Regions from separate parts of the Homo sapiens genome. Here region 1 is linked to region 2. A link means that fine-mapping ties the variant in region 2 to the expression of a gene that starts in the linked region. Tissue or cell type: whole blood. Region 2 holds a variant in brackets; the other region holds the start of a gene. All regions are shown on one strand. Distances are between the middles of the regions.

The links. PIP is the estimated chance that this variant, and not a neighbour inherited with it, causes the effect.
Region 1: it holds the start of CSF1R, and the variant in region 2 is fine-mapped to the expression of CSF1R in whole blood (TOPMed, PIP above 0.99).

What each region holds. Positions count from the first base shown.
Region 1 is chr5:150,084,491-150,088,625 of GRCh38, reverse strand. CSF1R (colony stimulating factor 1 receptor) reads left to right here and starts at 2,072. Exons shown (of 21, transcript NM_001288705.3): 1 at 2,072-2,247. The coding sequence starts at 2,199. RefSeq lists an enhancer at 1,985-2,014 and a promoter at 1,767-2,199.
Region 2 is chr5:150,120,046-150,124,313 of GRCh38, reverse strand. It overlaps PDGFRB (platelet derived growth factor receptor beta), which reads left to right. Exons shown (of 23, transcript NM_002609.4): 14 at 1-64; 15 at 1,113-1,272; 16 at 2,274-2,434; 17 at 2,992-3,110; 18 at 3,304-3,426; 19 at 4,191-4,268. Among named protein-coding and RNA genes, the nearest start is that of PDGFRB, 34 kb to the left of the region's middle. RefSeq lists an enhancer at 2,999-3,906. The variant G/A (reference allele first, on the strand shown) is at 2,074.

The DNA.
Region 1 (4,135 bases), 36 kb after region 2:
GGAGGCAGAGGTTGCAGTGAGCCGAGATTGCTCCACTGCACTCCAGCCTGAGTGACAGAGTGAGACCCTGTCTCAAAAAAGAAAGAAAGAAAGAAAAAAAAAAAAAGATTTGGTTTGCTAGTACATTTTTGAAAATTTTTGCTTTCTATATTCATGCATTTGTATTGGTCTGTAGTTATCTTTTCTGGCAATGTCTTGGTCTAGCTTTGGTACCAGAAAAATGCTGGCTTCATAGAATGAGTTGAAAAGGATTGGTATTAATTCTTCTTTAAATGTTTGGGAGAATTCACCAGTGAAGCCATCTGGTCCTGGGCTTTGCTTTGTCGGGAGGTTTTTGATTACTGATTAAATTTCTTTTCTTGTTATAGGTTTATTTGGATTTTCTTTTTCTTCTTGAGTCAGCTTTGATTGACATTCATGATTGCTAAAGGTTCAAAACACTTTTCTGAAAAAGAAAGTACATATATACACTCATAAATATACATACAAACACACACATACACACCACACACACACCTGAGTACACGGGAATGATCATTTTCCTGGATCAATGTTATATCAGGATTTTTCAATTTCAAGAAGGAACTTTAGGCTGGGTATAGTGGCTCATACCTATAATCCCAGTACTTTGGGAAGCCAAGGTATGCGAATCACTTGAGCTCAGGGGTTTGAGACCAGCCTGGACAACATGGTGAAACCCCATGTCTACCAAAAATACAGAAATTTGCTAGGAATGGTGGCACATGCCCCTGTAGTCCCAACTACTCAGGAGGATGAGGTAGGAGGATGGCTTGAGTCCGGGAGGTGGAGGTTGCAGTGAGCCGAGATCACACTACTGCACTCCAGCCTGGGTGACAGAACCAAACCCTGTCTCAGAAAAAAAAAAAGAAAAAAAGAAGAAGAAATGACCATGTTCTTTAGAGATAAGAAGTAAAATACTAAGCGAATCAACTAAAAGAGGTAAAAGCAATTGCCTCCAGGAAAAGAGGGAGCAAAGGAATGCTATATATTTTAAGAATTATGCAGAACAATTAGATTCTTTGTAAAAATAAATAAACAATGTAAGTAACGCACAAAAGATAGTTTTATAACCAGACTGCTGGGATCCAAATCCTATCTCCACCATTTGGTAGCTGTTTGACTATGGACAAGCTTAAGGCATTTGATCTCTCTGAGCTTTAGTTTTCCCATCTGTGAAATGAGAATGACAATAGTACTTACCTACATAAAGTTTTGCAGTACTAAAGGAGACAGTGAATGTAAAAGGTTTGGCTAGTAAATGTCCTGTAAAAGGAAGCTTATTGCCAATATTATCAGGCTCTCCCAGACCAACCTGTATACAGGAAGAAAACAAACTCCGTTTCTCCTATAGTCTCACAACACAAAATACTTCTGACCCCAGATGTAGAGGATGGGGCATATTTCCCCATACACCAAGCAATCAACCAATTGTTCAGATTCTGCAGCAGACACGAATCTGGTGCCCTCCGATTCAATTTGAACACTATATTTACCTAGAGATAACGTCAGATCTCACAGCTTGAAGGCTTGAGCCAGGAGTTTGAGGCTGCAGTGAGCTATGATCGAGCCACAGAGCTCCAGCCTGGGCAACAGAGTGAAACTGCGTCTCTAAAATAATAATAATAAATTTTTAAAAGATATGCATTACTTTGGAGATTCCAAGGATTTTAGGAGTTGTAAGCCAGGACATCAGGGTAAAGAAAAAATATATATGTCACAATATCATGCAACCTAACTTCTCTTTGGGATCTGCCAGAGCCACCTGATCACTCTGAAGACCCTCATTTGTGCTACTGACTAACGGTCTGGCTGCTCTTGGACATGTCTCTTCTCCCAAGACCCCTTGAAGATGGCTTTAGAAGGGCCCCAAACTTAGCTAGCTCCCCCCAAGCTCAGGCTGGCCCTGCCCCAGACTGCGACCCCTCCCTCTTGGGTTCAAGGCTTTGTTTTCTTCTTAAAGACCCAAGATTTCCAAACTCTGTGGTTGCCTTGCCTAGCTAAAAGGGGAAGAAGAGGATCAGCCCAAGGAGGAGGAAGAGGAAAACAAGACAAACAGCCAGTGCAGAGGAGAGGAACGTGTGTCCAGTGTCCCGATCCCTGCGGAGCTAGTAGCTGAGAGCTCTGTGCCCTGGGCACCTTGCAGCCCTGCACCTGCCTGCCACTTCCCCACCGAGGCCATGGGCCCAGGAGTTCTGCTGCTCCTGCTGGTGGCCACAGCTTGGCATGGTAAGAGCAGAACGGGGGGTGGGGGACTTTGTTGGGGTGTGATGGAGAAGACCCCTGTGAAAGGATTCAGTCCTTGCCCCTCACTGGGTGTCCTCAGGCTGTTTTAGTCTCCCCAACACTGGACTGCAGGCTTGTGGGTATCTGCTTTGGAGAGGTAGTGGGGTGAAAAGAGATGGGTGTGGTGGAACTGGTCCACCTGGTGCTGTGGATCTGTCCCAGCTCTGCCAGCGACTCACTGTGTGTCCTGAGCAAGCCTCTGATACTCTTGAGGCTTCAGTGTCCACTTCTATTCAATTGCAGGTGTTGGGGGCAGGGGGACAGTGATAGACTAGACCAGAGCAGTGCTTTTCATACTTTCCTGTGCATACAAGTTACCTGAGGATTTTGTTACAATGCAGATTCAGACTCAGTCGGTCTCAGGTGCGACCTGAGATTCTGTATATCCAACACACTCCTGGGAGATGTGAGATGCCGGCACTGCTGGTCCAGACCTACACTGAGTTGGGAGGACCTGGAGAGCTCCTGATGGCTCTGGCAGCTCTGCCAGCCTGTGATTCGATGATTCTATGCAAGATCTGATTTGGAAGGGCCTGATAGGGGTGGTGGTTCTTCCTTGGGTGGCTTGTGTAAGGGGTCAGAGGGGAGAGACAAGAGGTTGGCCTCTCTGGCCCAGGGCTCAGGAGAGGGGAATTCGGGGTGAAATAGGTATAGGGCTAGAGGAGGGATTGGGAAGAGGCCAGTGAGGGTCTCCTGGACCAGAGCCCTCCCAGACACAGGCTGCCAAGTCTCAGGAGGTCCCCAGGCTGTAGCAGTTCTGCAGAATTTCCATCTGGGAGGGAACATGACTAGAGGTGAGGGGCTGCTGTGCTTGGCTTGTTGGCCCAACAAACACATTTCTATTGCCTGCTTATTCAAAGGGACCTTGGGGGAGGATGGGGATTGAAGGGGAGAAAGGACAGCCTCATACTGGCCTCTTCACAGAAGGACCCTAAGGCCGTGGCGCTTCTGGTCCCTGATGAGGAGGAGATGGCCCACTGACCATCCTTCTCTGGCCCAGGCAATCACACTGAGCTTGAGTATTTGGGTTTTTTTTTTTTTTTTCCTGAGACAGAGTCTCTCTCTGTCACCAGGCTGGAGTACAGTGGCACAATCTCGGCTCACTGCAACCTCCACCTCCCGGGTTCAAGTGTTTCTCCTGTCTCAGCCTCCCAAGCTGGGATTACAGGCATACACCATCATGACTGGCTAATTTTTGTATTTTTAGTAGAGATGGGATTTCACCATGTTGGCCAAGCTGGTCTCGAACTCCTGACCTCAGGTGATCCACCTGCCTTGGCCTCCCAAAGTGTTGGGATTACTGGTGTGAGTCACGGCGCCCGGCCTGGACTTCTTATTTTGCAATGTAACTTACATGCAGTAGAAAGCACAGGTTCTTAAGTTCAATGAGGTCTGACAAATGCACACACAGTGTACCCGCCACCCCCTTCATCTCAGAGAGTCCCACAGGTTTGATTTCACTGCCTTGTCCTATCCTTACACCCACAACCTGCCTGTGGGGCAAAAACGGAAAAGTATCTGAGCCAGGTCTCAATTTAATTTTATTTTTTTTATTGAGATGGAGTCTTGTGGCCAGGCATGGTGGCTCACACCTGTAATCCCAGCACTCTGGGAGGCCGAGGCGGGTGGATCACAAGATCAGGAGTTTCAGACCAGCCTCGCCAATATGGTGAAGCCCCCTCTCTACTAAAAAATACAAAAATTAGCCGGGTGTGGTGGTGGGTTCCTGTAGTTCCAGCTACTCAGGAGGCTGAGGTGGGAGAATCACTTGAACCCGGGAGGCAGAGGTTGCAGTGAGCTGAGATCATGCCACTGCACTCCAGCCTAGGCG
Region 2 (4,268 bases):
ATCATGAGTCACCTTGGGCCCCACCTGAACGTGGTCAACCTGTTGGGGGCCTGCACCAAAGGAGGTACCGAGCCCACTGCCCCAGAGGCCTCAGGGAAAGTGCCCACCACCAAGGCCAGGCCCCGCCTACCCCCCCCTCAGGCCTTGCACAACAGCACACTCCTGCTGGAGGGTCCGTGCCCACCCGCTCCAGCGCCCTCACTGCGCGGTCCCAGAGGGCGGTGGGGTTTAGAAACTCACAAAATCACAACACCTTCAAGGCTGAAGGATTAGTCAGGTCACCAGTCCCAGCAGCTTCCAGACCATGGTGTTGGCTGACACTTTTTTATTTTCCCAATACATTTTGAAAACCAATAAATAACAGCTCACATGACATTAAGATGAGTTATATGCCCACCATTGGAGACCACCAGCTTGCTACTTGGGAGCTACCTTCATTTGATCATAGAAGAAAGTCTCTGTGGCCAACTGGGTCTATTTGAAGCTCTGATTGCCAGTTAGGCTGAAAAAAAATGTTATCACCATTTGCAGCTGCTTATTGTGAGATTTGGGATTTTCCTCAGCATTATGCAACCAAAATAAAATACAGAAGTATGTTGGGTACATAGACTTATTCACGTTTGCAATGATCGCTCATTTCAACATTTTCGTTTGTGTAGATATCTTCAAGTTCTCACTGATTGACTTTAAGTAAATGCATTGTAGTTGAATTTAACTACTAAAGTGATCGTTGTAAACAGTGGCCTTTATCTGCTTTCTATACTGGGCTCCAAAGTAAGCTTTAGTTTGAAAACATATCAATAAGAGCCAACACTGCGAGCTCGCCACGTGCCCAGCCAATAAAGACATCATCTCATTAATCCTCATGACAGTGCTTTGTGGTGGGTTTAATTAGCCCCACTTAACAGCTGGGGAAGGTAAGGCTCAGGGAGACTAAGTACCTTGCTCTCCACCACAGAGGCAGGAAAAGAATCCAGATTTGCAAGGCACTAAAGCCTCCTAGCCGTCATGCCAAAGTGTCTCTCCCACATCCAGCCCCTGATTAGCCTCATGGCCTTGAAGGGACGCCTGAGGCCTCCATAGGGACTGTCCCTGAGCCTGTCCCTCTGCAGGACCCATCTATATCATCACTGAGTACTGCCGCTACGGAGACCTGGTGGACTACCTGCACCGCAACAAACACACCTTCCTGCAGCACCACTCCGACAAGCGCCGCCCGCCCAGCGCGGAGCTCTACAGCAATGCTCTGCCCGTTGGGCTCCCCCTGCCCAGGTACCAGGAGGGAGGCCAGGGACTGAATCTTTGGGATACCTGAGGAGCACCGCTCCTTCCCCTCCTTTTGTCCAGGAGGGGAAGCTGAGGCTGTGACAGGGCAGGGGACAGAATCACTCCTGGAGCTAGGGCTGTTCCACAAGATGGTCCACCCCAGATGAGGGAATAACACTAATGCCAGGCCCTGTGCTGCTAAGCCCTCTACAGATGTGACATGCCATCCCTGTGTCGTGGGTGTTTGCCCTTCAGTCCAGGGCAGGCAGTGATGGAGGAAGGGGCAGAGGCTGTGGTGAGATGAGAGCCAAGCCTCCCAATTTGCACAGTGGTGCTCCAGGCTGTGTTCCTCTCTGCAGCCTCTACACATCAGCCTCCACACTGCCTCTCAGGGAGCTCAACTCCAGTCTTTGTCTTTTCCAAAAAGAACACTTCTTAGTTCTGTTGCTGATTACAAAAACAAAGACAAGAGTAGCTTCAGAAAAGCGTAAAAGACCTTAAAACCCACTCATGTCCTCTCCAATGTTTTGACATTCAGTCTCCCAGGAGCCAAAGGGCTTCTCCCATCTTTTTCCTGCCTATAGAGACAGATGTGTGTAGAGCCCCACAGCTCTTTGGGGAGCTGATGCTACAGGCATAGGTAGCGGGGTGAATCCTGGCTGCCTATGCTGGGTTGCAGTCAGGCACTCCCATGGCCAGGTGGCGCTGGGGAGGCCACAGGAAGGCGCCTCTGAACACACCCGTCTTGTGACCTTTGCCCTGGGGTGCTGTAATCGCCTCTGGGTGTGAGCTCTCTGGGTTCTAACT[G/A]TCATTTTGGTAGCCTCAGTGCCCAGCTTGGCCCAGCAGGTTGGTTGAAAAGTCTTGATCCACAGGCTTTCCTACTGGGATAGACTGAAGGAAGATGAGTGAGTGTGTGAGTGAGAGAAGAAATTCATGAGTGGCAAGGGGCAGGAGGGGAGGGGAAGGCAAAGCCTGCAGGCTCTCCTGTGATGCTCCTTTACCCCCAGCCATGTGTCCTTGACCGGGGAGAGCGACGGTGGCTACATGGACATGAGCAAGGACGAGTCGGTGGACTATGTGCCCATGCTGGACATGAAAGGAGACGTCAAATATGCAGACATCGAGTCCTCCAACTACATGGCCCCTTACGATAACTACGTTCCCTCTGGTGGGTGGACATAGTGACATAGTACCCCACATCCAAACAGGCTGATGCTCTTCACATGCCCAGCCTTGCCAAAAACCCTGAGAAGAAGGGAGCCTCGTGCCCATTTCATAGATGTAGAAATTGAGGCTAGCCACCTGGCCAAAACTGATCTGTAGTGGACCCCTAAACGGAAGCCCTGTTTATGGATCCGGAAACATGCGTAGAACCCTCAGGGAGGGAGAGAGCAGGGATATGGGAGGACCTGGCCTTTTGTCGTGGTAGGGAAAGTGATCTACTCAGCTTCAGCCCCAGGCTGGTCTAGTGTCCCTGAGAGGCAGGCAGGCAGGCCAGGCTGGGCAAAAGTGGCCCAAGGGCTAATGCCAAAAGGCCAATGAGGGCACTGATAAAGCAGGAGAACTTTGAGTTTGATATTAAGAAATCATTCTCCTTTTAGGGGAGACCTAGACGATCAGTAGCCACCTGTCTTGGACATTCAGTCTCCCAGGAGCCAAAGGGCAGGGGTCCTGTGGGCCAGAAGGAGATATAAGATAGCAGGTGACCCTCTGCTTCTCCTCTAGCCCCTGAGAGGACCTGCCGAGCAACTTTGATCAACGAGTCTCCAGTGCTAAGCTACATGGACCTCGTGGGCTTCAGCTACCAGGTGGCCAATGGCATGGAGTTTCTGGCCTCCAAGAACGTACGTGTGGTGTTGGTGGGGCAGAGTGGGGGCTGTGGGGAGGTGGGTCACCCAGCCAGCCAGCATCCTCCAAGAGCACACCAGGGTGGCCTCTCGCACATGGGCAGTGTTGTATTTTCCCAAAGCCCTTGACATGAAGGGTCTTTCCCCACAATTGTCCCCAAGGCCTCAGCTCCCCTCTCCCCAAACCCAGTGCGTCCACAGAGACCTGGCGGCTAGGAACGTGCTCATCTGTGAAGGCAAGCTGGTCAAGATCTGTGACTTTGGCCTGGCTCGAGACATCATGCGGGACTCGAATTACATCTCCAAAGGCAGCGTGAGTACCTTCCCTGGCCCCTGCAGGGCAGTCACAGTGCCTGTGACCGCAGGAACAGATTCCCTCCTGACCAGTGTGGCTGCAGCTCATAGGAAATCTGTGTGGGGCTCCTTGTGGCCTGCCCTGACAGCAGTGATGGGCTGTGCCTGCCCAGCTATGTGTGCAGGGACAGGATGGGGAGCCGCCCAGGAGTGCATGGAGCAAGTATAGCGGCGGGGAGGGCTGGCTATAATGGGTCCAGGGTGGGGGAAGGGGGAACAGGCCGAATGTGTTGTTCCAGTGGTGGTGGGCAGAGGAAGAAGCCCAGGTGACAGGGCAAGAAAGATGAGCAGGTCACATGCAGTAGCAGGGATTGGTCTGGTTAAAACGTGATCATCCTGCCTGTCTCTCATCTCCCCACTTTTCCGCAAACCCCAGATGGAGGGACGCTAGGCCCAGAGATCAAAGGCAGCCAGGATAAGAGCTTGGGGGGTGCCTTGACAAGTCCCTGGCTCCCACACTTCACTACTCAGACCCTGGGGCTTTTCCCCAGGGACAGGGGCTGCCTTGTCCCCAGCTAGTGAGAAAGGAAACAGCCTCTGGTCCTCTGACCAGCCCTGGGATGGACATGGGAACTGTGCTGCGCAGAGACCAGGGCCCTCACAGGGAATGGGACGGAGAAGTGGTTGTGGGTGGGAGCTGCCAGATACCCTCCTCCCATCCCAGGTGCAGAGTGGGGCTGAGGTCCTTCCTTGCACTCAGCACCTGTCCTGACCTCCCTACAGACCTTTTTGCCTTTAAAGTGGATGGCTCCGGAGAGCATCTTCAACAGCCTCTACACCACCCTGAGCGACGTGTGGTCC